Linked DNA regions of Homo sapiens: region 1 is linked to region 2. Evidence: fine-mapped expression QTL. A gene starts in region 2. The other region holds a variant in brackets. All regions are shown on one strand. Distances are between the middles of the regions.

The links. PIP is the estimated chance that this variant, and not a neighbour inherited with it, causes the effect.
Region 1: its variant is fine-mapped to the expression of NANS in whole blood (TOPMed, PIP 0.94).

Annotation. Positions count from the first base shown.
Region 1 is chr9:98,074,790-98,082,789 of GRCh38, reverse strand. NANS (N-acetylneuraminate synthase) reads right to left here. Exons shown (of 6, transcript NM_018946.4): 3 at 5,773-5,872; 4 at 4,443-4,597; 5 at 1,708-1,974. It also overlaps a transcript of TRIM14 not described here. Among named protein-coding and RNA genes, the nearest start is that of NANS, 22 kb to the right of the region's middle. RefSeq lists an enhancer at 7,351-8,000. The variant G/A (reference allele first, on the strand shown) is at 4,735.
Region 2 is chr9:98,045,600-98,061,605 of GRCh38, reverse strand. NANS (N-acetylneuraminate synthase) reads right to left here and starts at 4,874. Exons shown (of 6, transcript NM_018946.4): 1 at 4,666-4,874; 2 at 609-824. The coding sequence starts at 4,797. LOC124902227 (a long non-coding RNA gene) reads right to left here. Exons shown (of 2, transcript XR_007061687.1): 1 at 15,767-16,006; 2 at 13,403-15,146. It also overlaps a transcript of TRIM14 not described here. RefSeq lists enhancers at 4,156-4,275, 5,316-5,365, 15,782-15,831, 15,932-16,001 and silencers at 4,526-4,695, 4,776-5,125.

The DNA of each region.
Region 1 (8,000 bases), 25 kb before region 2:
CTTTACTTTACACTCAAGGTCCCTGATCAGTCTTCCCCAGGCAGTACCTTGGGAGCAGGCACTCTGTTGCCCCCTACACTGCTCAGAATATCTCATACATGGCAGGAATTCAACCAGTATAGATTGAATTCAGAGACTCAGAGGAGGAGCCTTTACAACAAAGTGCAAAGGAAAGGGCTGAGGCTATGTAGGCGGAGCCAGGTTCAAATCCCAGTCTGTGGGGTATAGGCCACGTTTTAGTTTCTCTGTCAAATGGAAACTTATCCTGTCAGATGACTGTAAGGATTGGTGATATTACAGAATGTACGTGGAACATAGAATGCTCTCAATACATGCAAACTCTGATTCTTTTGGTTACCATTCAGCTCAGTATCTCATTGTAAACATGGGGAAACTGAGGCCCATACAGGGTGGGTGACTTGGCCAGGGTTGCAGACAGCCAAGATGAAACATAACATAGGGATGAGATTCTTAACTCCTGACACACCGTTCTCCAGGGCACACACCTTACCGCCACTTTGTTTGGTAAAATAGAAATATGAAGGACTCATAAGATGGTGAATGTGGCTGTTATGCAGATGGCAAGAAAAGGAGCCCCCGAGGAAGGGGCAGATAATACAGGCAGATGAGGGAATGAAGGGTACCTGAAGCTCATGACCAGTGTTTGTCTTCTCTATAAATGCTTTCAAATAAATTACGTGTTTTATTACTCTATATCCTCCACGTAAGAGTACAAGGAATCAATTCTGCTTGGAATGTGGTGCCAGGAAAAAATGTCAAGTGATAATCATGCATCCTGTTATGTTTTACTGTCTGCTCAGAGAGCCAAATTAAGTGCTCAGCTGTTATAAATCTTACTCTGGTTTCTGGTCTAATTCTCTCCTGTTTCCTCTATAAAGAAACTATTTCTTTTTACTTTATTTTAATTTCCTGGTATAGATGCATCTTTGATTTGGGGAAGCAGGTAGGCCCCACTAGAATAAAAGGTGACAACAGTCCCAGGCATGCCTGGTGTTTGGTCTTTGCCTTGACCCCGACAGCCTACAGGTTAGGTGTGTGTGTGCCTGGCAGCCCCAGGATGCCTGCCTGGCTCTATGACTCAGAAGGCAAGAAGGTCCAGGCCACGGCTTCCAGGAAGCCCTGATAGTCAGCATGCCAGGCAGTGCTTCTAGGCCCACCAGTTCCTCTGTCTGAAGGTCACTGTTGCACAAGGAATAGCTGCATCATCACCCACCCACCTCTGCAACGACTCACTGCCCTTCCCACCAGTGCCACCCTGGCTTAGGAAATGCCACAGGCTCTTCTGGTACCTCAGGGAACACCGTGCCTAAATGTTTCTCAGGGCTTACCTGCTCCAAGGGAGCCCAGACTTGACTTATTCCAGGGCCTCACTCCTGTTACATATTCTGGAGTCTAGGAGTACTGGGGCCATGGGCTTCAGAGAATTAGTGGAAGACTCTAATGTGACCCTAGGTGGCCAGAGAAACTGCTAAAGTTAGATAACATGTGTCTCCTGCTGCTGCTACAGGCCAGAGTGACATGCATTACTGAAGAGAAGCCTGAAGAAGCTGACACGGGTGGGAGCACATTCACTGATCATTTCATCAGCCTGGCTCAGGGAGGGCTGGTCCTGACCATCCCTCTCAGGCCAGCCTATCCTTTTTCCACACACGGCAGCAGAACCGAGTAGAGTCCGGCAGGACACACCTTCTCATTGCAGGCCATCTCACAGGGCAGCAGCTGCTTGGTTGGGGAGCCCAGGGCACGCTCCACAAGACGCACTGACCGCACCAGCTCGGCCAGTTCTCCAGGCTCCAGCGAGGCCGAGTGGTCACTCCCCTTCCAGGTCTTGTCCAAAGTTATGTGACGTTCCAACACCTTGGCCCCCAGAGCCACTGCGGCCACAGATATCGCTATGCCTGTTTCATGCCCAGAATACCCTATGGGAATGTCAGGAAAGAGCTTCTGATATTCCTTTAAAATGGAAAAAGAAAAATAACATTAAATATCATGCTGCTTTATGCATATTCTCCAGGTGAAGCGTATCTGGTTGAGCCCCGGTTTAGCCACTCACTAGCTGTGCAGCCAGGGGCAAGATACTGAGGCTCTCTGAGCCTCTCTTTCCTAGGGATGATAATAATACCTGCTGAGTGTTGCTGTAAATGCATGAGAAGCACTCAGCACATTGTAAATGCTCTAAAAATGGTTACTGTTATTCTAAAGAATGCATTTTAAGAATGTTTCACATTGCACAATACACCAAGAGTAACAACAGAACTATAAATGAATGTCTAACCTCATTCAAAAACCATCTGTCACATTTAATTAGCCTGAGCTGCTGAAAGCAAGTGTGCTATATGCACAAATATCATCAATAATATACACAGCCCAATCTCAAAACAATCCTTTGGTGAAAATGATAAATAATTAATCCGTTATCTATAATTCACTGAATGCAACAAAAGACACTCTAAGATGGGTGAGTCTTGTTGGTGAGGGTGACCAGAAAGCTGAGTACAGTAGAAAGACTCAGGTAGCGTGTATTATTATTTTATTGTTATTTATTATTTCTTTTTGAAACAGAGTCTTGCTCTGTCACCAAGGCTGGAGTGCAATGGCGTGATCTCAGCTCACTGCAACCTCTGCCTCCTGGGTTCAAGCGATTCTCCTGCCTCAGCCTCCTGAGCAGCTGGGACTATGGGTGCCCGCCACCACGCCCAGCTAATTTTTGTATTTTTAGTAGAGACAGGGTTTCGCCACATTGGCCAGGCTGGTCTCAAGCTCCTGGCCTCAAGCGGTCCACCTGCCTCAGCCTCCCAAAGTGCTGGGACTACTGGCATGAGCCACGGTGTCTGGCCTCAGGTGGGATTTAACAAAAGATTAGGAGGGTTAGGTGGCAAAGGCCTTGAAAACCAGGCTTAAGGGTGTGTGATGGAGTGCGGGTTGCTACAAGTTTGAAAATTCAAACCACTGTACTATGTGCAGGCCCAAGATGGGATAGGCTGGCAGAATAACTCCTGCAATGTGTAGTGTCAAGAGAGAGGACATGACAGCACCTTGAGTGGGGACGGAGATACACTGAAAAGGAAAATAGCTGGGGTCACGTCTACTAAACTGTTAATTATCGGAATCTCTGTGGGATGGGAGTGCAGGGGATGTTTACTTTCGACATTACATATTTCACAGAAATCATTTTTAAATTTTAAAAATAACGTGATTTAGATAAGCTGTAAGTGAAGCAAAAACAGGATTGGGAGGGACAGAAAGTTTAGGTAAAAAGAGAGTAATGTCAGTTTTCAAAAAGGCTAACTTTTTAAGTTAATGGCTGTATAACAACATGTAAGAAAGCTTATATTATGGGGAAAACAATGTCAAATACTATACTGAAAGGAAAATATAAAAGGAAAACAACTGCAATATCAGGATTCTAGTATGTGTGGATAGATAGATAGAATTCCATTAATGTTACTATAATAGTTTTAATGATAATTACATACATATTTTCGAATAAAGTTAAATTTCCAGTGCTACAGGAAGAACTGAGAGAGATGGCGTGAGACAGTAAGAGACAAAGGCCTAGGGGGACATGCCCAGGTTCTAGTTCCAGCTTTGCCACCAAGCTGCTGTGGGATCTCAGGCTTCCCGACTTGGGACTGGATTTCACCATCTGTGAAATGACTGAGTAGGCAAAATCGTGGGAGAGAGTAATTTCCATCAAGGCTGTCACTATAACTAGTATGAGCCTCAGGGATGCTCAGCATTAGAAAATAAGAGAGTCAGCAAATAAAGCAGAAAAAGCCAGGAAGTTTCAAGAAGGCCTCCTATAACTCAGTATGAAAAAAGATGAATATTTATCTGTACGCTAGTGTTCATAGCAGCATCATTCACAATAGCCAAAAGGTAAAATCATCCCAAATGTCTGTTGACAGACAGACTTTTTTTTTTTTTTTTTTCCCCCTGAGAGTCTCACTCTGTCACCCAGGCTTGAGTGCAGTGGTGCAATCTCGGCTCACTGCAACCTCTGCCTCCTGAATTCAAGCGATTCTCCTGCCTCAGCCTCCTGAGTAGCTGGGACCACAGGCACGCATCACCATGCCTGACTAATTTTTATATTTTTAATAAGAAGGGGTTTCACCATGTTGGCCAGGCTAGTCTCGAACTCCTGACCTCAGGTGATCTGCCCACCTCGACCTCCCAAAGTGCTGGGATTACAGGCATGACCCACCGCGCCTGGCCAAGAAAATTTCATTTACAGTCACCCTCTTTAGAATGTATGTGCTTCCTCAACTGCTTAGCTCGAATTTGATTTGGTAACAGCAAGACTGTCAAAGGATGTTCAAATTATAAAGTATGCCATGTTTGTTAGAATTTTGGTTATAAAAAAGACTACGCCTTCCCCATAGTAAATGGCCCAAGAAGGGAACCCCCTCCCTCCTGCTCACCGAGATGACCCGCAGGTTGACGTCCTCAGGCTGGAGCGGGTATGCGCTGGTACACTGCAAGAAGCAGAAGTTGGGGTTGAGGGGCTTCACGATCTGATAAACTTGCTTCATGGTGTCCATTGACTGCATCCCACTGGAGATCACCATTGGGCGACCTGAGTAATCCAGCACCAACACCATCAGCACTTTCTCTTTAGAGGTTCTGACTCTCCCCAACACATCCCAACTGCTGGTCTCATCATTCAACTGAACTCCACAGACATCTCTTAAAACACTGTGCCAGCCCCTGTGG[G/A]GGAACAGAGAGGAGCTTGTTGGGTTCCTGCCCTCGGCCACAGGAAAGGTGGGCTCCCCTCTGCCCCCCGACAGTGTTCTTGAGCAAAAGGAACTGAATTAAAGAGGCAGAGGAATTTCACACTGCCAAGAGGAAAATGAGTATCTTATCTGATTAATAGGTTGTATACCATGGCAGTACAGTAGAATGAGTGCTGATTCAAGAGTGTGAATGAATGTGAGGTGTGGAGCTGCCACTTCTAGCTGTGCCTGGGCAGAGTACTGTCCGTCTCTGAGTCTCAGAGGCCTCCCCTGTGAAATAAGTATCAAGCATCATAATCATGACCTGTTTCAGTCCTAGGAGTGTTATGAGGATCAAATGAAATTGTTCATGTTGTAAAACCACTTTACACGATCATGTCCCACTGCGGTCTCAAACTCAAGCAATCCTCCTACCTCAGCCTCCCGAGTAGCTGGGGCCACAGTAATGCACCACCATACCCAGCTAGGTTTTATATATACTGTCATATCCTTAATTTCTTATAAATTTTAGTTAAAAAATTTTCTAGGACAGGTGCAGTGGCTCACACCTGTAATCCCAACACTTTGGGAGGCTGAAGTAGGAGGATCACTTGAATCCAGGAGTTCAAGACCAACCTGGGCAACATAGACAGACCTTGTCTCTATTAAAAAAAAAAAAAAATTCTTAAAAAGAATTTCTAAATGTCTTATAAAAACTGTCATATTCTTAATTCATTTTCTTTCAAATTAGCTTACAAAAAATGGAAGTACAGGCTGATTGAAAAGAGGTTTCTGGCAGGGCACAGTGGCTCATGCCTGTAATCCTAGCACTTTGGGAGGTCGAGATGGGAGGATTGCTTTAGGCCAGGAGTTCAAGACCAACCTGGCCAACACAGCGAGACCCTATCTCTATTTAAAAAAATGAAAAGAGGCTAAAATTTGTCTTCATGAAATCTGCTGAAAGTGGGCCACCATGAGGGGAGTAAAAATATGAAGGTTTGGACTCCCTTCGATTTTAAGTCAAAAATTAGACACTTACCTTTTTTGGCTGTCTTTTCCAGATAAGGAAAATTATTAGTGTCTCCAGATCCAACTTTGAAAAATGGAACATTCAGTTCATGCAGGAATTCAACTGCCATCTACAAAAATCAAAGAGGGAGCTCCTTTTCACCATTGTCCAAAAACACTGTTGTTATGACAGGCAAGGAATAACATACAAGTAGAAAAACCCCTCATCTTAGGCAGTAGAGGGACGCTCAGCAACTTGAAAGCAGGCAAAGATTTGTTCTCAGTCATTTCATTCAAATGCAAACATTCATTTGCATCCACCCATCCATTAGCCCAACAAACGTTTGGTGCTGGTCTTTGCTGGCTACAGGAATCTGGAAAAGGGCTGGGCGTGGTGGCTCATGCCTGCACTTTGGGAGGCCGAGGCGGGCAGATCACCTGAGGTCAGGAGTTTGAGACTAGCCTGACCAACATGGTGAAACCCCGTCTCTACTAAAAATATAAAAATTAGCCGGGTGTGGTGGCGGGCACCTGTGATCCCAGCTACTCAGAAGGCTGAGGCAGGAGAATCACTTGAACCTGGGAGGCGGAGGTTGCAGTGAGCTGAGATCATGCCACTGCACTCCAGCCTGGGCCACAGAGCGAGACTCCATCTCAAAAAAAAAAAAGAATCTGGAAAAGAACCTTTCCCCTGGCCAGACCCTACCTGCCCCAGGGGCCCAAGGCCAAATGAACAAACATGAAACGGTCATGACCTAATCCTGACCCAGAAAACCAGGCAGTGAAAACATGAATAGCCTCAAAGGCTTTCCCTTCTACTCGGCCAAACGAGCAGGAAAAGGGGCTATTTCAATTCTTGGCGAAAGGGGGAAAATGGAGCATTTTTTTGCCCAGCCTCTACATAAGGATCCATGGCTGGCAGGGCCCATTCAACCCGAGCCCTTTCAGGCCTCAAAGCACGCTGCCTACTTAAAAGTGAACCTCAGTCACTTTTTTCAGATATAACGTCACTGCTTGAGGTTACCTATTTAGTGCTCTTCAACATCCTTCTCTAGTATTCATCAACAAGACTCAGGAAATTGGTAAATGTCAGCAAATGCTTGCTGAAGGAATCAGTGGATCACAAGTTATAAGAGTAAAATCTCAGTTTGCTGTCAAATTATAAGAACTCAAAAACTTTTTATTATCATTTCTTTCCAGCTTCAGTAAGGTGTAATTGATATACTAAAAACTGCACATAATGTAATTTGGTGAGTTGGGACTTAAGTATACACTACTGCTACCATCAGCACAAGAGTAATAAACATACACATCACCTTCAAAAGTTTTCTTGAGTCCCTTTGTTTTGTTTTGAAGTTGGAAATCAAAAGTCGAAAAAATCAATGTCTCTGAATGGTGACTCAGAAATAAGTTAGGGCTTAGTGAGTTGCTCACACTTGATCACATGGGCACAAATCTTTCCCTCTCCCAGGGAAGTTGCTGAAATGAAATGCAAACTCTGATTGGTCTAGGACCGACGGACCGACGGACCAACCAACCTACCTCCCTTCCTGTCTCCTTCCCTCCCTCCCTTCCTTCCTCCCTCCCTCCCTTTCCTCCCTTTCCTTCCTCCCTTTCCTTCCCTCCCTCTCTCCCTTTCCTTCCTCCCTCCCTCCCACCGTTTCCTTCCTTTCCTCCCTTCCTTCACCTTTCTCACTGCTCTTCCTCTGCTTTATTTTTAACTCTTCTCTTTTCCCCTTCCATCTTTTTCTTTTCTTTTGTGGTAGAGACGGGGTCTTGCTATGTTGCCCAGACTGGTCTCAAACTCCTGGGGTCAAGCAATCCTCCTGCCTCAGTCTCCCAAGTAGCTGGGACCACAAGCACGTGCCACCACATGTGGCTAATTTTTTTTTTTTTTTAATTTGCTGTGGAGATGGGGTCTTGCTATGTTGCCCGGGCTGTTCTCAAACTCCTGACCTCAAGCAGTTGTCCCACCCTGGCCTCCCACAGTGCTGGGGTTGCAAGCTTCAGCTGCCATGCCCAGTACCTTCCATACCTTTCCACCTCACTCCTTCCTGTTTGTGTCTCATAACACTGCTAACTAGCCCTAAGACAGAACTGAAAAAACATCAGTTTTAAATATATTTTTTCAATAAAATCTAATTTTCCTACCCTTCTCACTTCATTTGGCAGATGAAGAGAGTGCTTTCTGTTTAAAGAAGGAACCTTCCACTGAGTTTTCTTTTGTATAATGTTCATCTTGTGGGAGTGTGGTGTGGC
Region 2 (16,006 bases):
GTTTCACCATGTTGGCCAGGATGATCTTGATCTCTTGACCTCGTGACCTGCCTGTCTCAGCCTCCCAAAGTGCTGGGATTACAGGTGTGAGACACCGCGCCTGGCCTTTTTTTTTTTTTTTTTTAATTTGAGATGGACTCTTGTTCTGTTGCCCAGGCTGGAGCACAGTGGTGTGATCTCGGCTCACTGCAACCTCCACCTCCCAGGTTCAAGTGATTCTCCTGCCTCAGCCTCCCAAGTAACTGGGATTACAGGCACGCACCACCATGCCCAGCTAATTTTTGTATTTTTAGTAGAGATGGGGTTTCACCATGTTGGCCAGGCTGGTCTCGAACTCCTGACCTCAGGTGATCCATCCCCCTCAGTCTCCCAAAGTGCCGGGATTACAGGTGTGAGCCATCAAGCCCGGCCAGAGACAATGTGTTTTTAAAACAATGGCATCCTTCCCACAGATTCTCACTGGGCTTTGGCGCCTGCTAGCCTCTCCAGTAGCTGGGAACAGAAAGGATGAGCAAGGGCTGGAGGTGGCCCTAAGCCGGAAGTCACCAGGCTGCCTGCTGACCCTTGGTCTGCTAAAGTGACAAATGACAGAGCAGCAGAGGACTCACCTCATCCATGCCAGAGGCAGTGAAGAAGATCCCAACCTCCTCGGCGTACCTCTGCAGCTCCCTGTACTGGTCATGGCTGAACTCCAGATGTCGTTTGTGCTCCCCGTACGTCTTCCCCCAGGAATGCTTCGAGGTGTATGGCCTCTCCAAGGCTTTCCGATTAAACTTGAATTCTAGCTCACTCTTCTGGAACTTAGCACAATCAGCCCCACACTCCTACAACACACATTAGGACATCTTTCAGTGACTGTCGTAGATTCTCAAAAAAAGGAAAAAATTCTGGAGCAACCACTATGACATCACCATCTTTATTTATTTATTTATTTAGAGACAGAGTTTCGCTCTTTCACCCAGGCTGGAGTGCAGAAGGTGTGATCTCGGCTCACTACAACCAATGCCTCCCGGGTTCAAGCCATTCTCCTGCCTCAGCCTCCCAAGTAGCTGGGATTACAGGCACCCACCACGACACCCGGCTAATTTTTGTTATTTTTAGTAAAGACAAGGTTTCGCCACATTGGCCAGGCTGGTCTTGAACTCCTGACCTCAGGTGATCCAAACGCCTTGGCCTCCCAAAGTGCTGGGATTACAGGCATGAGTCACTGCGCCCAGCCGACATCACCATCTTTAAAAACAACATAGACTGACAGAGACCTTAAGGACCTCCAAGGAAGAGGAACAGAAAAGGCAAGAAAGTCTGAAAGGAAGAAAAGGTTGTTTGGAGATGGGAGACCTCCCCCTATTTTTTTCTCTTAACATGCCAAAAGAAAAAAAAATGGGACTTTTTTCCTTTGTTTTGCATTGTAAATATTAAAAACATTGGATCAAAGAGTTAAGGAAGATTTTAAGTTATATAACTGAGCAAAGAATAGTCAACTCAGCACTGGACCAGAATTTAGTAAAGAAAAATTCTGGTTTAACTTTGACCCTAACTCTTAGATAAGTCACTTCCCAGCTCTGGACTCAGTTTCTCCATCGATATAAAAGCAGTTTGGGCTACCTCCAGGATGTGTAAACTGTCCTAATGAGGCCCTCTCAGGGACAGGAACATCCAGGGACAGTGCCCTATGCCTCTTTCTCTGATTTCAACAATAGCAACTCTGCTTTTAGCTGCTTTGCACTGGCGCTTTTCTCCATGACATTTTCTTTGAACAGGTTACATGTTAAAAAGCAGACAAACAAAACAAAAATGCCCCAGCCCCTAGATGACTTCTACTGAGCAGAGGCAATAATATAAAAGCCGGATTGTTTGACTATAAAAAAAAAAAAACAAAAAACACTCAAGAGGTCAGGCACAGTGGCCCATGCCTATAATCCAAACACTTTGAGAGGCCAAGGTGGGAGGATTGCTTGAACCAAGGAGTTCAAGACCAGCCTCGGCAACATAGTAAGACCCTGTCTCTACAAAAAATATAAAAATTAGCCAGGCATGGTGGCATACGCTTGTAGTCCCAGCTACTCAGGAGGCTGAGGGGGGAGGATCGCTTGATCCCCAGAGGTTGAGGTGGCAATGAGCTATGATGGTGCCACTGCACTCCAGCCTGAGCAACAGAGTGAGACCTTGACTCAAACAAAAACAATCTACTCAAGAAAAAGAGTAATTAAAACCCACTAAAGTCCCATCTCACGGCCATTTCTGTAGACACAGAGGTATTCATGCTATTAAAAACTTCTTGGCTGCCGGGCGCAGTGGCTCACACCTGTAATCCCAGCACTCTGGGAGGCCGAGGTGGGCAGATCACGAGGTCAGGAGATCGAGACCATCCTGGCTAACATGGTGAAACCCCGTCTCTACTAAAAATACAAAAAATTAGCTAGGTGTGGTGGTGGGCACCTGTAATCCCAGCTACTCGGGAGGCTGAGACAGGAGAACGGTGTGAACCCAGGAGGCGGAGCTTGCAGTAAGCCGAGATCACGCCACTGCACTCCAGCCTGGGTGACACAGCGAGACTCCGTCTTGAAAAAAAAAAATAAAAACTTCTTGGGTCCAGAAATGTCAGTGCTGAGATCACTACTCCTGCTCTTAGACAAATCATAAGATGGTAGAGTCAGGACTTGATGCTGGAAAGTTCAAAGAACATTAGAACTGAAAGTGACCTTGGGCAACAGAGCTCTCATTGTCTAGATGAAGATCCCAAGGCCCAGACTGACCTGACTAAAGTTGCACAGTGTCTCTAGCAGAGCTGGCCAGATCCCTTTCCTAAAGGCTGCAGCCACCTAGATTCCAGCTCAATGGAATTAGAGACAGGGTCTCGCTATGTGGCCCAGGCTGGTCTCGAATTCCTGAGCTCAAGCAATCTGCCTTCCTCAGCCTCCCAAAGTGATGGGATTACAGGAATCAGCCACTGCACCTGGTCAGTACAGCTTTGTTTCTATGGCTTCAGTATCTCTAGATATTTCTACAACTTCGGCATTCCAAGAGGAAAAACAGACTGCTCCTTCAAATTAAGAGTGGGAATTTCCCTCTAGAAAACAATGTTGCAGAAGAAAGGCTGGAGTCCTGTGGCTTAGGAGCAAAAACTGAAAAAACCCCTTACTGTATTTATTATACTAGCTATGTGACCTTGCCTAAGTCACTTATTTTCTCTTAGCCTTTAAAATGAAATCGGCAGCATCATGGCATTGGGTTGTTGTAAAAATTAAATGAGATGGTGCATGTACAGCATTTAGCTTAGTACCTGGTAGAGTAAGCACTCAAAAAATGTTAGCAATGTTATTTTTGTAAAGTATTTTTATGATTCAGTGATTAGGTTTCCATAAAACCAGTCCCGAAGGAACAGCAAGGGCCGAGGGTGGTGGCTCACACCTGTAATCCCAGCACTTTCGGAGGCCAAGGTGGGCAGATTGCTTGAGCTCAGGAGTTCGAGACCAGCCTGGGTAACATGGCCAAACCCCATCTCTACAAAAAAATTAGCCCAGCATGGTGGTTCACGCCTGTGGGTCCCAGCTACTCGGGAGGCTGAGGTGGGAGAATCACTTAAGCCTGGGAGGCAGAGGTTGCAGTGAGCCGGGATCATGCCACTGCACTCCAGCCTGGGTGATACAGAGACCCTGTCTCAAAAAAAAAAAAAAAAAAAACCAGGAAAAAAAAAAAAAAACAGTAAGAGAAAACCTCCAGCCTGGGTGACAGAGCAAGACCCTGTCTCTAACATAGATAAATAAATAAATAAACATTTAAAAAACCTATCACAAATGATACAAAATCAGTTGAGTAGCATTGATGAAGGGAAAGGAAAGATGGGGTGAGCTATCTCTAAACCAAAGAATCATAGTGCAGGCCAGGCCTTATGCTGGGGGCTGGGGTCGTAATGAAGAATATGGCAGTCCCAACAGAAGAGGGAGCACGCATTTACCGACTCATGTGTGCCAAGTGCTGGGCTCAGAGCTCTATCTGAGAATCTCATTTGATCCCCATAACAACTCCATGTGGAAAGAACTGTTGTTTTCAAGCCCCGTTTTCAAATGGGGAAAAGGGTTCACGGAGGCTAAGTAAGCAGCCCATGTTCACACAGCTAGTAGTGGTGGAACTGAGATTTGAACTCAAAGGCCCGGCTTTTAACCACTTCATATTTCATATACAGGGAATGGCGGGTGAGAGAGACCACAGCAACTTCCAGGAACTGTCATTCCTGAAAGTAACTCTGTGTCGCTGAAGAATGTCAGAGAAGAATTATGACGGGCTGGAAGGGGCCCAGTCATTAAAATCTTGAAGGCTATGTTAAAGGGTTTCGACTCTACCCGCGGGCAGGAGGGAGCCACAGAAGGTGCCAGGCAGGGGGGATGGTCTGATCAAGTCTGACTTTTAGAAAGATTATTCTGGCACCAGAACGGGGAGGAAACAGGTCGGGTTAGGAGGCAGCTGCTGTAATGCAGAAAGGTCACGAGGGTGGCGGACACGGTGAGGAAGAGGGATCCGAAGGATTCCGAAAACGGAACTGGCGGGCGGGAAGAGGCCGGACCAGGGTACCCAGCCGCGGAGGCCGTGTGGCCCTGGCTCCCCGCGGCCCCGCCCCGCCCCTCCCGGCGCCCGAATCCCGGGTCCCGGGAGCTGCCGCCTCACCTTGGCCATGCGGATCATGCGCTTGGCTACGTCCAGGTCGCCCTGGTGGTTCTGGCCGATCTCGGCAATGATGAAGCACGGGTGTTGCCCGCCCACCCAGCGCCCGGGACACAGCTCCAGCTCCAGCGGCATTGCAGCGGCTCGGGGTCCAAAGCCTCACTACCAGTCTGGGTCCGGCCGCCGCCGCCGCCGCCTCTACTCTGTTCTGTGAGCAACGCTGCGAGACCCACACGCCAGCCCCGCCACGTCAGCCCGCGGTCGCCGGGCAGCCAATCCCCTAGGCCCCGCCTCTCTCCCGACAGCCAATCGGGGCGGGGGGCGGGGGCGGGGCCTCCCGCGGGAAGGGCGGCGGGGCGGGTCGAGGAAGCTCCGCGGCCCTCTCCTGTGCGAGGCTTGAGGCTTGCTGTCCCAGAGCGTGGTCTCGGACCATCGCGGTATCCGTGCGTGCACCCAGGAGCAAGCATTCCCTGCAGGAGGCGGACGGCTGCCTGCGCAGGGCATAGTCTATGTCCTGCTCTCAGGAGCATGGGGAGAGCGCGCCCTATGGTGTAATGGAAAAAACAGGGTTGCTAGAGTTAGAATCACAGAGCTGGATCGAGTCCAGCCTATGCCAGTCACCAGCTCCTGCTCATATATACGTTACTCAGTCTTCCGGAGCGTTATTTTTGTTTCTCTCTGAAGCAAAAAAATAAAATAGAACTGTGAGATGACGTATAGAAACCCCTGATCACAATACTTGGCTTGTAGTAAGTTTTCAAGAAGTGGCGGAGGTTCCTATTATATGAGAGGCAACAGGTTCGAGAAGTTGCACTGGCTTGTCCAAAGCCATCCAGAAAGCCAAAGCAGAGATGGGACTAGTACCCGGACCTCCCAGCCCCAGGCTCTTAAAATACAATCACCTGGGCGGGCGCGGTGGCTCACACCTGTAATCCCAGCACTTTGGGAGGCCAAGGCAGGCAGATCACCTGAGGTCAGGAGTTCGAGACCAGCCTGACCAATATGGAGAAACCCCGTCTCTACTAAAAATACAAAAAAATTAGCCGGGCGTGGTGGTGCGTGCCTGTAATCCCAGCTACTCGAGAGGCTGAGGCAGGAGAATCGCTTGAACCCGGGAGGTGGAGGTTGCAGTGAGCCCAGATCACACCACTGCACTCCAGCCTGGTGACACTGCAAGACTCTGTCTCAAAAATAAATAAATTAATTAATTAATTTAAAAAATAAGATAAGTTATTTCCCAAAATAAACCTCCTTCTTTCCTGGGAACTAGACTGCCTTTGTAGGACTAACAAATTAGCCACAAGATTAGACACGTAGGAGTCATGCACCTGGAGGCTACAAGATTCTGACCCTCCCCAAATTGCTCCTGGGGATAACATCACTATTGTAAAACCTAAGACCAGTGCTTGAGATATTTTGCAGACCCTGCACTTGATGGATCAGCTGGCACCACCAGATTGATAAACTGGTTCATCTGATCTTGTGTCCCCCAACCAGGAACTGACTTGGCACAAGAAGACAGCCTTGACTTTCTATGATTTTATCTCCAACACAACCAATCAGCACTCCTGGCATACTGGCCTCTCTTAACCCACCACATTATCCTTAAAAACTCTGATCTCCAAGGTGGGGCATAGTGGCTCACACCTGTAATCCTAGCACTTTGGGAGGCTGAGGCGGGTGGATCACCTGAGGTCAGGAGTTCGAGACCAGCCTTGCCAACATGGTGAAACCCTGTCTCTACTAAAAATACAAAATGAGCCAGGTATGGTGGTGCATGCCTGTAATCCCAACTACTTGGGAGGCTGAGGTAGGAGAATCGCTTAAACCTGGGAGGCGGAGGTTGCAGTGAGCTGAGATTGTGCCATTGCACTCCAGCCTGGGCAACAAGAGCGAAACTCCATTTCAAAAACAAACAAACAAAAACCCCAAAAACCTCTGATCCCTGAATGCTAGGGGAAATTGATGTGAGTAATAATAAAACTCAGCCAGACTGCACAGCTGGCTCTGCATGAATTACTCTCTCTATTGCAATTCCCCTATTTTGATAAATCAGCTGTGTAGGTAGTGGGCATGGTGAACCAGTTGAGCAGTTAAAAATTTGGGGGCTCATTCGGGATTGCTCTTGTGCTACCTGCCCCGGTTCTGTAGACCCCCTCTGGCGATGGATCCAGAGGCCAGCCCAAGCGGCCACCTAGTTTTGGACTGGGGGCTGACTCTGGCGTCATCTCTATCGGCAGGGCACTACTAGCCCAATATGTATGGAGTACACTTTGCAATAGAGAAATTGTCCTGGGGAGATATCTCATAACTAGAGCTCCATGGCAAGGTGTCCCTCTGTAGCTCCACCATGGGGTGCCTGTAACTGTAACCTTATCACAGTGTCTGTTTGTAGCCCCATCATGGATTGTCTGCAGCTGCAGCCCCATTATGGGGTGTCTGATTTGGTGAGTAGTCTAGGTGCTGCCAACACCCCTTTCCTTCTCCCAATTGGTTCAGCTTCTTCAGGGGTCTCGGTTTACTCTCCCTAATTAGTAGGAAGAGTCTTGGTTCTGGAGACTTCTCCTCAATCAGTAAGATTTCGGGGAGACTTCTCAGATGGAGAATAGGATAGTTTGGAAGGAATACTCTTGGAATTCTTGGTTAGGGATCTTGGTTTGGAAGGCCTTCTGTCCGTCTTGTCTTTGTGTGTGTGTTTGTATATGTGGAGGGGATCTCTGAGGGAATTTCTGATGCAAGTCCAGCAGGCCTAACTCAGAAAACCCTCTGTAAGTATGGTCACATTCAGTGAGCTCTGAAAAAAAAGCTTAACAGGCCTGACTGTTAAGGGGTAACTCTCTGCTCTTTGTCTTGCCCAGAGACTACTCATTGATGCCATCCCTCCCCACCTTGAGTGGATCAAAGATGATAGGGACCAAAGGAAGACAGTTTGAGCCTTGCTAGGGTGATACTGGGTGCCCAATGAGGTGACTACTATCTGTTTTGTTATGTGTATTTTGCTTCAGCTGAGACGGAAAATGTTAATTCGGTTCTCCATGCAGCCCATCGGGCAGCATCTTACAAAGTTGAGAAGCTTTGCCTATGGTTCCATAAAACAGAAAAGGATGATATTTATTTATTTATTTATTTATTTATTTATTTTGTAGTGGGCTTGGCCCCCACAGCTATAGCATAGTGAACAGTTATCAAAGGCCGCTCCGTTCTTCTGGAAGCTGCAGAGAAAGGGAACCTGGAAACCTGGTATGCCGGCAAAAAGGGTAACAACTTATTAGCCAACTTTCTGGCCTGTATGTGTGTGTGTGTGTATGTTAAACATCACTGTCTCCTCTACAAAGGTCTGATTAATAGAAAAAAAGACTTATGAGACTAGTTTAGGCTATAGAAAATCTGGTGTACTTAGTGCTATGAATTTGTTTTTCTGTGTTGTTCTATAATGGAGGGGGCATCACAGGATAGAACATGGACTTAGGAGCCATATAAGCCAACTGTCCAAAGCCAGTTCAGCAGGCTGGTCACTTACAAACTTTTCTGTGAGTCCCTGAAACCAATACCAGATGAAGTTTCTCTCTCATGTTGTTTTATGTCCTTGAACTTAACCTTGTGACCATGTGAGGATACTTTATCTTGGATTCTGCCATCCAGAGGACAGGAATTTTGGGGTTCATGTCATAGGTAGCCCTAAAAATTATCTTGAGCAGTTAAAAGCCTTCGCAAGCTCAAAATCTTCCTTCTGGGAAGAGCAATAGAAAGTGCTTAATGCGGTAGCTCAGTACTAAGGCTTTGGCATTTGACAGTGGTGGCCCAGGTTCAATTCTTGGCTCAGGGGGCTTAGGGAGTGAGCCCTTTCTGGTTTGTTATTTGTGTAACTTTTTGCCATTTATTGATTCTTTTTCCCCATGGACCGATTCTGGTTTTCTGTCTTTATTCTTACTTTTGCTGAACTACCTTTGGGGAGACTCTAATTATTAGAAAACGAAAACAAAAACTGCTTACCATCTCTTTAAGACACTTTATGCATCCATGGTTAAGTTATGACCTTAGTTAAAATGTATTAATTTCACATGGGAGGTTACCTGTGGTAGAATTCAAAAGCCAGAAATATTGGCTGTCCTGGCTAGTCTGGTAATAAAAGATTTTGGGCTGAGCACGGTGGCTCACGCGTGTATTCCCAGCACATTGGGAGGCCAAGGAGAGTGGATCAGCTGAGATCAGGAGTTTGAGACCAGCTTGACTAACATGGAGAAACCTCATCTCTAATAAAATATAAAATTAGGCAGGCGTGGTGGCACACGCCTGTAATCCCAGCTACTCGGGAAGCTGAGGCAGGAGAATCACTTGAACCCAGGAGGTGGAGGTTGTAGTGAGCCGAGATCATGCCATTGCACTCCAGCCTGGGCAACAAGAGCAAAACTTTGTCTCAAACAAACAAAACAAAAATTTAACAGTTTTTTTTTTAAGAAAAAAGAGCTATATGGTTAAAATCAGCTTAATAAAAAGTGGATATGCAAACTGTACATATATTTAAAAAGCCTTTATGTTTGTTTTCTTTTCTCTTCTTGGATCTTATTTTTCTGAAGGAAAATTAAAGTTTTTTTTTTTCTTTTCAGTCAACTGAATTGTTTTTCTCCATTTTGTCTTCTTGCCATTCTTGAGGTCCACATGAGAGAACCTAAGATAATTACTAACAGCCTGGGACTCCTGGGGAAAAACAGAGGAGGTGTCACAGACCCCATTCTAGGAAAAACCTCTGTTTCCCTCATGTAACCCCAGAAATTGAAGGAGGATAGAGTCCTCTCAAAGTCTAAGGCTCTGTTCTGTTTTACATTACATTACCTGACACTTGTGACTTTGGGGGCAGGTTGTCCAAAATTACTTTGCATTGTGAGAGAGCTTTTAGCCTTGGTGTGTAATAACCAGGTAGCGAATATATTTTAAGGGATGGCTAATGGCAGTTAGGAGGGATACTTGGCTCTTTGCACGCTTGGATCAAAGAAGCACGCTCTTGACCACCTAGAGGCATGGAAACATCTCCACCCCACCCCCTCACCCCTGCTAAATATGAGATTCCCATAAGAGATGGGCTGATTACAAAATGAGCTGATTGGCTTTGGGTTGCCTTGCAATGAAATCCACAGTAGAAGCATTGCACTATCTTCTCTGGTAGCATTTCCCTTCTTTTTGGGGATCCAGGATCCAGTATAAAAATGGGACCCTTCATTTTGGGGATCTGTTTTTGCCTTCCAGCTGTGGCTGCTTGTTAGAACATTGGCTCACTCCTCTTAACCCACATCATGGGTTAAAGAAATCATTGCCAGGAGGCCTTCACTCCTCTAGAAGGGCATCATTTGTTAAGTCCTTTTTCTATGGTTTGGAGTAAAAGGGGCAATGATTAGAAATGTATCCCCCATGATAGGTTCTATAGCAGGTTCTACTGTAAAGTCTATGGTTCCACAACAGACTTTATCTTATGAAAGTTATGCTAAATAATGGAATTGCTCTAGATTACTTACTGGCACAGAAGTATCTGTGCAGCTGCTGGCACTTGTGGCCTATGGATAAATATATCACGTCGGGCATTATAGAGATTCAGTTGTAGGGGATTAGTGGAAAGACTGCTTAGTTAAGCGAGTAGACTCTTCATCTAGCTCATTCTTTGATCTATTTAATTTCAGGTGGTTTGGTTTATGGGGACCCTGGATAAGGAGAATACTCCAAACACTTGGTGTTATCCTCGCGATAGTCATAATAGTAGTCTCCCTGGTGTGCTGTATTCTCTCAAAGGTTTTAAGTGTTTGCACACAGCCATCTTTAGAATATCAAACGGTCTCTCTTCAGTTGGAATGACAAGAGCTGAAAGAAATGTGCAACCATGCCGGGTGTGGTGGTTCACTCCTGTAATCCCAGCACTTTGGGAGGCCAAGGCAGGTGGATCACTTGAGGCCAGGAGTTCGAGATCGTCCTGGCCAACATGGTGAAACCCTGTCTCTACTAAAAATACAAAAATTAGCTGGGTGTGGCGGTGCCTGCCTGTAAACCCAGCTACTCAGGAGGCTGAGGCATGAGAATCGCTTAAACCCAGGAGGTGGAGGTTACAGTGAGCCAAGATCATACCACTGCACTCCAGCCTGGGTGACAGAGTAGACTCTGTTTCAAAAAAAGAAATGTGCAACCATGAGGACACCATAACCTATGAATGACACGCTGAGACCAGAAACCCAAAATGATGGTAACTGAGAGTGGCGTTAAGGCCCTAAGTTTTGGTCACCGTCTCACCTAAGTAAGAACTCTCACCTAAGGGAGAATGTGACCAAAAAGGGGGAATATTTAAAAACAAAATTAGGGGAGGCCATTGTTTTGGAATGAGCACTAGGCCCCAAACCAAACCAAAATGGAGTCACTCGTGCTAAATGTGACATAGCAATACTAAGACTTTAAGGAACACATAGGTCCTAGAACAAACCAGGTTTTGTTTTTCTTCTGTAAACAGGAGGTTCCAGCATAAGGAGGTACCCTCTACTCAGTCCTTGTTCCCACCTTGCAAAACTCACTGTTCTACTGTTTCCCAGTGGGTTTCAAGACCAAATAAGTATATTTATGCTGGGATGGTGACATGAATGACTAAAGTTTTGGTCAATCTCTCAAAATTGAGAAAATGATCAAAAGGGGGGAATTGTTAAATCAAGTTTAGCCTAAAGCTGCCTCCTTATATATTTTAAGTTCAGCCTAAAGATTTTCTGTACATCATGAACTACAACAAGTGGAGATGTAAACAGACTGTAGCCCATATCTGTGCCAATCACTGAGTTTGGGCCAATCAAATGTAGCCAATTGTTCCAACTGTGTTAAAATAAGGCAAACGCTGAAATGTAAGCAATCCAGTTGCTTCTAAACCTCATTTGTGTTTTCTGTACTTCACTTTCCTTTTCCTGTCCATAAATCTTCTTCTACCACAAAGCTGCACTGGAGTCTCTATGCCTACCCTGGCTCAAAAAGCTGCTCAATTCGTGACTTGCTCATTGATCAATCAAACATCTTTAAACTTAATTCAGCTGAAGTTTTTCTTTTATCACTGTGGCAGAGGCATTTGAACTAGAGTGACTCCATCTTGAATGGGGGCTAGATAAAATAAGGCTGAAACCTTCTGAGCTGCATTCCCATGAGGTTAAAGCATTCCTAGTTACAAGAAGAGACAGGAGGTTGACACAGGGTACATGTCACAAAGGCCTTGCTGATAAAAAGTAGTGGTAAAGAAGTCAGCCAAAACCCACCAAAACCAAGATGGCAATGAGAGTGACCTCTGGTTGTCCTCACTGTTCATTATACACTAATTATAATGTATTAGCATGCTAAAAGACACTCCCATCAGTGCCATGACACTTTATAAATGTCATAGCAACATAGAAAGTTACCCCATATGGTCTAAAAGGGGGAAGAACTCTCAGTTCCAGAAAGTGCCCACCCCTTTCCTGGAAAACTCATGAATAACCCACCCCTTCTTTAGCATATAATTAGGAAATGATCATTAAAGTGGACAGCCAGCAGCCCTTGGGGGTGCTCTGCATATGGAATAGTCATTCTTTTTTTTTTTTTTTTTTTTTTTTTTATGCAGAGTCTCACTCTGTTGCCCAGGCTGGAGTGTAGTGGTGCAATCTTGGCTCACTGCAACCTCCACTTCCCAGGTTCAAGTGATTCTCCTGCCTCAGCCTCCTGAGTAGCTGGGATTACAGGCATGCGCTACCACGCCTGGCTAATTTTTGTATTTTTATTAGAGATGGAGTTTCTCCATGTTGGTCAGGCTGGTCTCAAACTCCTGACCTCAGGTGACCTGCCCACCTTGGCCTCCCAAAGTGCTAGGATTACAGGCATGAGCCACCGCTCCCGGCCAGAATAGCCACTCTTTATTCCTTACTCTTTTTTTTTTTCTGAGACAGAGTCTTGCTCTGTCACCCAGGCTGGGATGCAGTGGCATGATCTCGGCTCTCTGCAACCTCCGCCTCCCAGGTTCAAGCAATTCTCCTGTCTCGCCTCCCAGGTAGCTGGAATTACAGGTGCCCGCCACCACGCCTGGCTAATTTTTGTATTTTTGGTAGAGACTGGGTTTCACCATGTGGCCAGACTGGTCTCGATCTCCTGACCTTGTGATACACCTGCCTCGGCCTCCCACATTGCTGAGATTATAGGCATGAGCTACCATGCCCAGCCTATTCCTTTACTCAAGTTGAACGATTTTCAAAAGCCAAAGAAGCAGTTTATAACCTTAAAGCATTTAGCAAACCTAATATCTGACCTGCCTAAATTAGACTAAATATCTTTATTTTACCAATAATCTTCAAAATTGTTTTTATTTCCCAAAGGTTACTAAAGTCATGTGAACTAAAAGGCATTACAGTTTTTATTTTTCTTTCAAAATATTTAAGTACTTATTTTTCTTGAAGCCAATTAATCAGAGCTCTTTTATATAAACATCACACGCACAACACATATATAACTACACAGACAGACAGATGGAAGAAGATCCAGTAGCTGTAGGATTTTTCATTTGCCAGTTTTTATATTTCTTAATTGGATTACTGGCTTTAGAGTGGAGCCCTTTGTAGAACAGGGTGAGGAAAGCAGTTTCTAGGACCTAATAAGCAGGCACACCTGGAAGGTAAAATGGATTCCCCCAATATTAAGGGTTTCATTTTTAGACCAGATCTCAGATCCCAAAAGGAGAAATGCTATGAACAAGACAGTGCAATGATTTTACCATGCATTTAATTGCAAAGCAATCCAAAGCTAACCAGCCCATTCTGTGACTAGCCCATCATCCATGGGAGTCTTGTCTCTCAGTCAGGGGGTGTGGGTGACATTTCCATACTTTTTTTTTTTTTTTTTTTGAGAAGGAGTCTCACACCATCACCCAGGCTGGAGTGCAGTGGCATGATCTCAGCTCACTGCAACCTCCACCTTCTGGGTTCAAGCGATTCTTCTGCCTCAGCCTCCTGAGTAGCTGGCACTACAGGCATGTGCCACCACGCCCAGCTAATTTTTGTATTTCTAGTAGAGATGAAGTTTCACCACATTGGCCAGGCTGGTCTCAAACTCCTGACCTTGTGATCCACCTGCCTTGACCCCCTCAAAGTGCTGGGATTACAGGTATGAGGAACCACGCCCGGCTCATTTCCATGCTTTCTAGGTGGCCAAGAGCATGCTTCTCTGATCCGAACATGCAAAGAGCTGAGAATTCCCCCATAATTGCCATTAGCTATCCCCAAAACTGTATTTCCTACCTAGCTATTACACACTAAATTTCTCTCATAATGTGAAGTAACTTCTGGTACCCCCAAAACTCAAAAATATCAGATAATGCAATGCAGAAAAGAACAGAGCCTTAGATTTTGAGAGGGCTCTAACTGCTTCCAATTCCTGGGGTTTCATGAGAAAAACAGAGGTTTTTCCCAAAACAGGCTCTGTGGTGCCTCCTGTTTTACCCAAGGAGTCCCAGGCTGTTAGAGCTTGAATATCTTTTTGGGTATCTTTACAGCAGTGGTCCACTCTACTGGTACTAATTTACTGTATTTGTCCATTTTCACACTGCTGATAAAGACACACCCAGGACTGGGTAATTTATAAAGAAAAAGAGGTTTGATGGTCTCACAGTTCCACGTGGTGGGGGAGGCCTCACAGTTATGGTGAAAGGCAAAAGGCACGTCTTACATGGCAGCAGACGAGAGAATGAAAACCAAGCAAAAGGGATTTCCCCTTATAAAAACCATCAAATCTCGTGAGACTTACTCACTACCATGAGAACAGTATGGGGGAAACCGCCACCATGATTTAATTCTCTCCCACTAGGTCCCTCCCACAACACATGGGAATTATGGGAGCTACAATTCAAGATGAGATTTAGTTGGGGACACAACAAAGCCATATCACCCACCCATTGCAGTGATACTGAATCAAAAGTTCAAGTGGTCACTTTTTGGTCACAAAGGGACCTTTTCCAGCTGTCCCATCAGCCCTTAAATTTCACCTTTGGGGGGAAAAGTTTCCCCAGGTTCTAAGGTCCTGTACGTGCCTAATCCTGTCACTCATAGCTGTCAGCAAAGAGTACAAGGCAGATTTAATTTTTTTTAATCAATTAGTTGCCTAAGCTTTTTATTTGCCTTTTGTAAAGGCTTTAAATAAAAATATGGAAATCTTTTTAAACTCTTCTGCATATCAGCTGGGCGCAGTGGCTCACGCCTGTAATCCCAGCACTTTGAGAGGCCAAGGCGGGTGGATCACAAGGTCAGGAGTTCAAGATCAGCCTGGCCAATATGGTGAAACCCCCTCTCTAATAAGAATGCAAAATTAGCCGAGTGTGGTGGCGCATGCCTGTAATCCCAGCTACTCAGGAGGCTGAGGTAGGAGAATTGTTTGAACCCGGGAGGCGGAGGTTGCTGTGAGCCGAGATCACGCCATTGCACTACAGCCTGGGCAACAAGAACGAAACTCCATCTCTGAAAAAAAAAACAAAAAACAAAAAAACTCTTCTGCATATCAACAGACATCCCTAGATGAGACTAATTAGGGAGCCCTCATTTTCAAATGCATTTCAGTGCAGTTTTATTCATTTGGAATGTTCCACTGTAAGTTACCTTTAGTACGATTTCACCATTTCTGTAAGACTTCGCTGCTTCCAGGGCCCTAATACTTACGCATGTATAAGTCAGAAGGAACTCAGTTCTTCAGAAATTAAGTATCAAATTTTTACCTAGGATATTGGGTTTGCTCTCGGGTTCCCTTGATTAACTTAGCCAATGATTTTTTTTCCTGTGTAAGCACTGAAGAAAAATGAAACAAAGGGGTGAAAAACAAAAATCCCTGTGAATTTCCAAAACCCAAATTTTACACCCCCTGCAATATTACCATTTACTACCAGTTTCTTTCTGACCCAGTCAGTTGTAAGAGGCCTTAACTGGATCCAAGCCAGTTAATTACCAGATCTAATTCAATCCCGGACCCAGTCCAATTTCTGTTGTGATTTCCAAACCCAGTTTGGAACAGAAATTTCCTCAAAGAAACTCGGAGAGCTCAAAGCACAAATCCATGGAGTTCTGAAATCTGAGCAAGAACTTACCATGATCCCCAGCTGCTCCAAGAGATCAATGGACACAAATGGGTCCTGCAGGTACCTTGCTTGATCACTCAGCACCCCTGGGGGTCATTAGAAGAAGCTCTACTTCAGATCCTGTTTCTGACCCCATCTGATGAAAGCAAAACTTCAGCTGAATTAAATTTAAAGGAGTTTAGTTGAGAAATGAACAATCCATGAACTGGGGAGCCTTTTGAGCCAGGCTAGGCTCAGAAACTCTAGCAC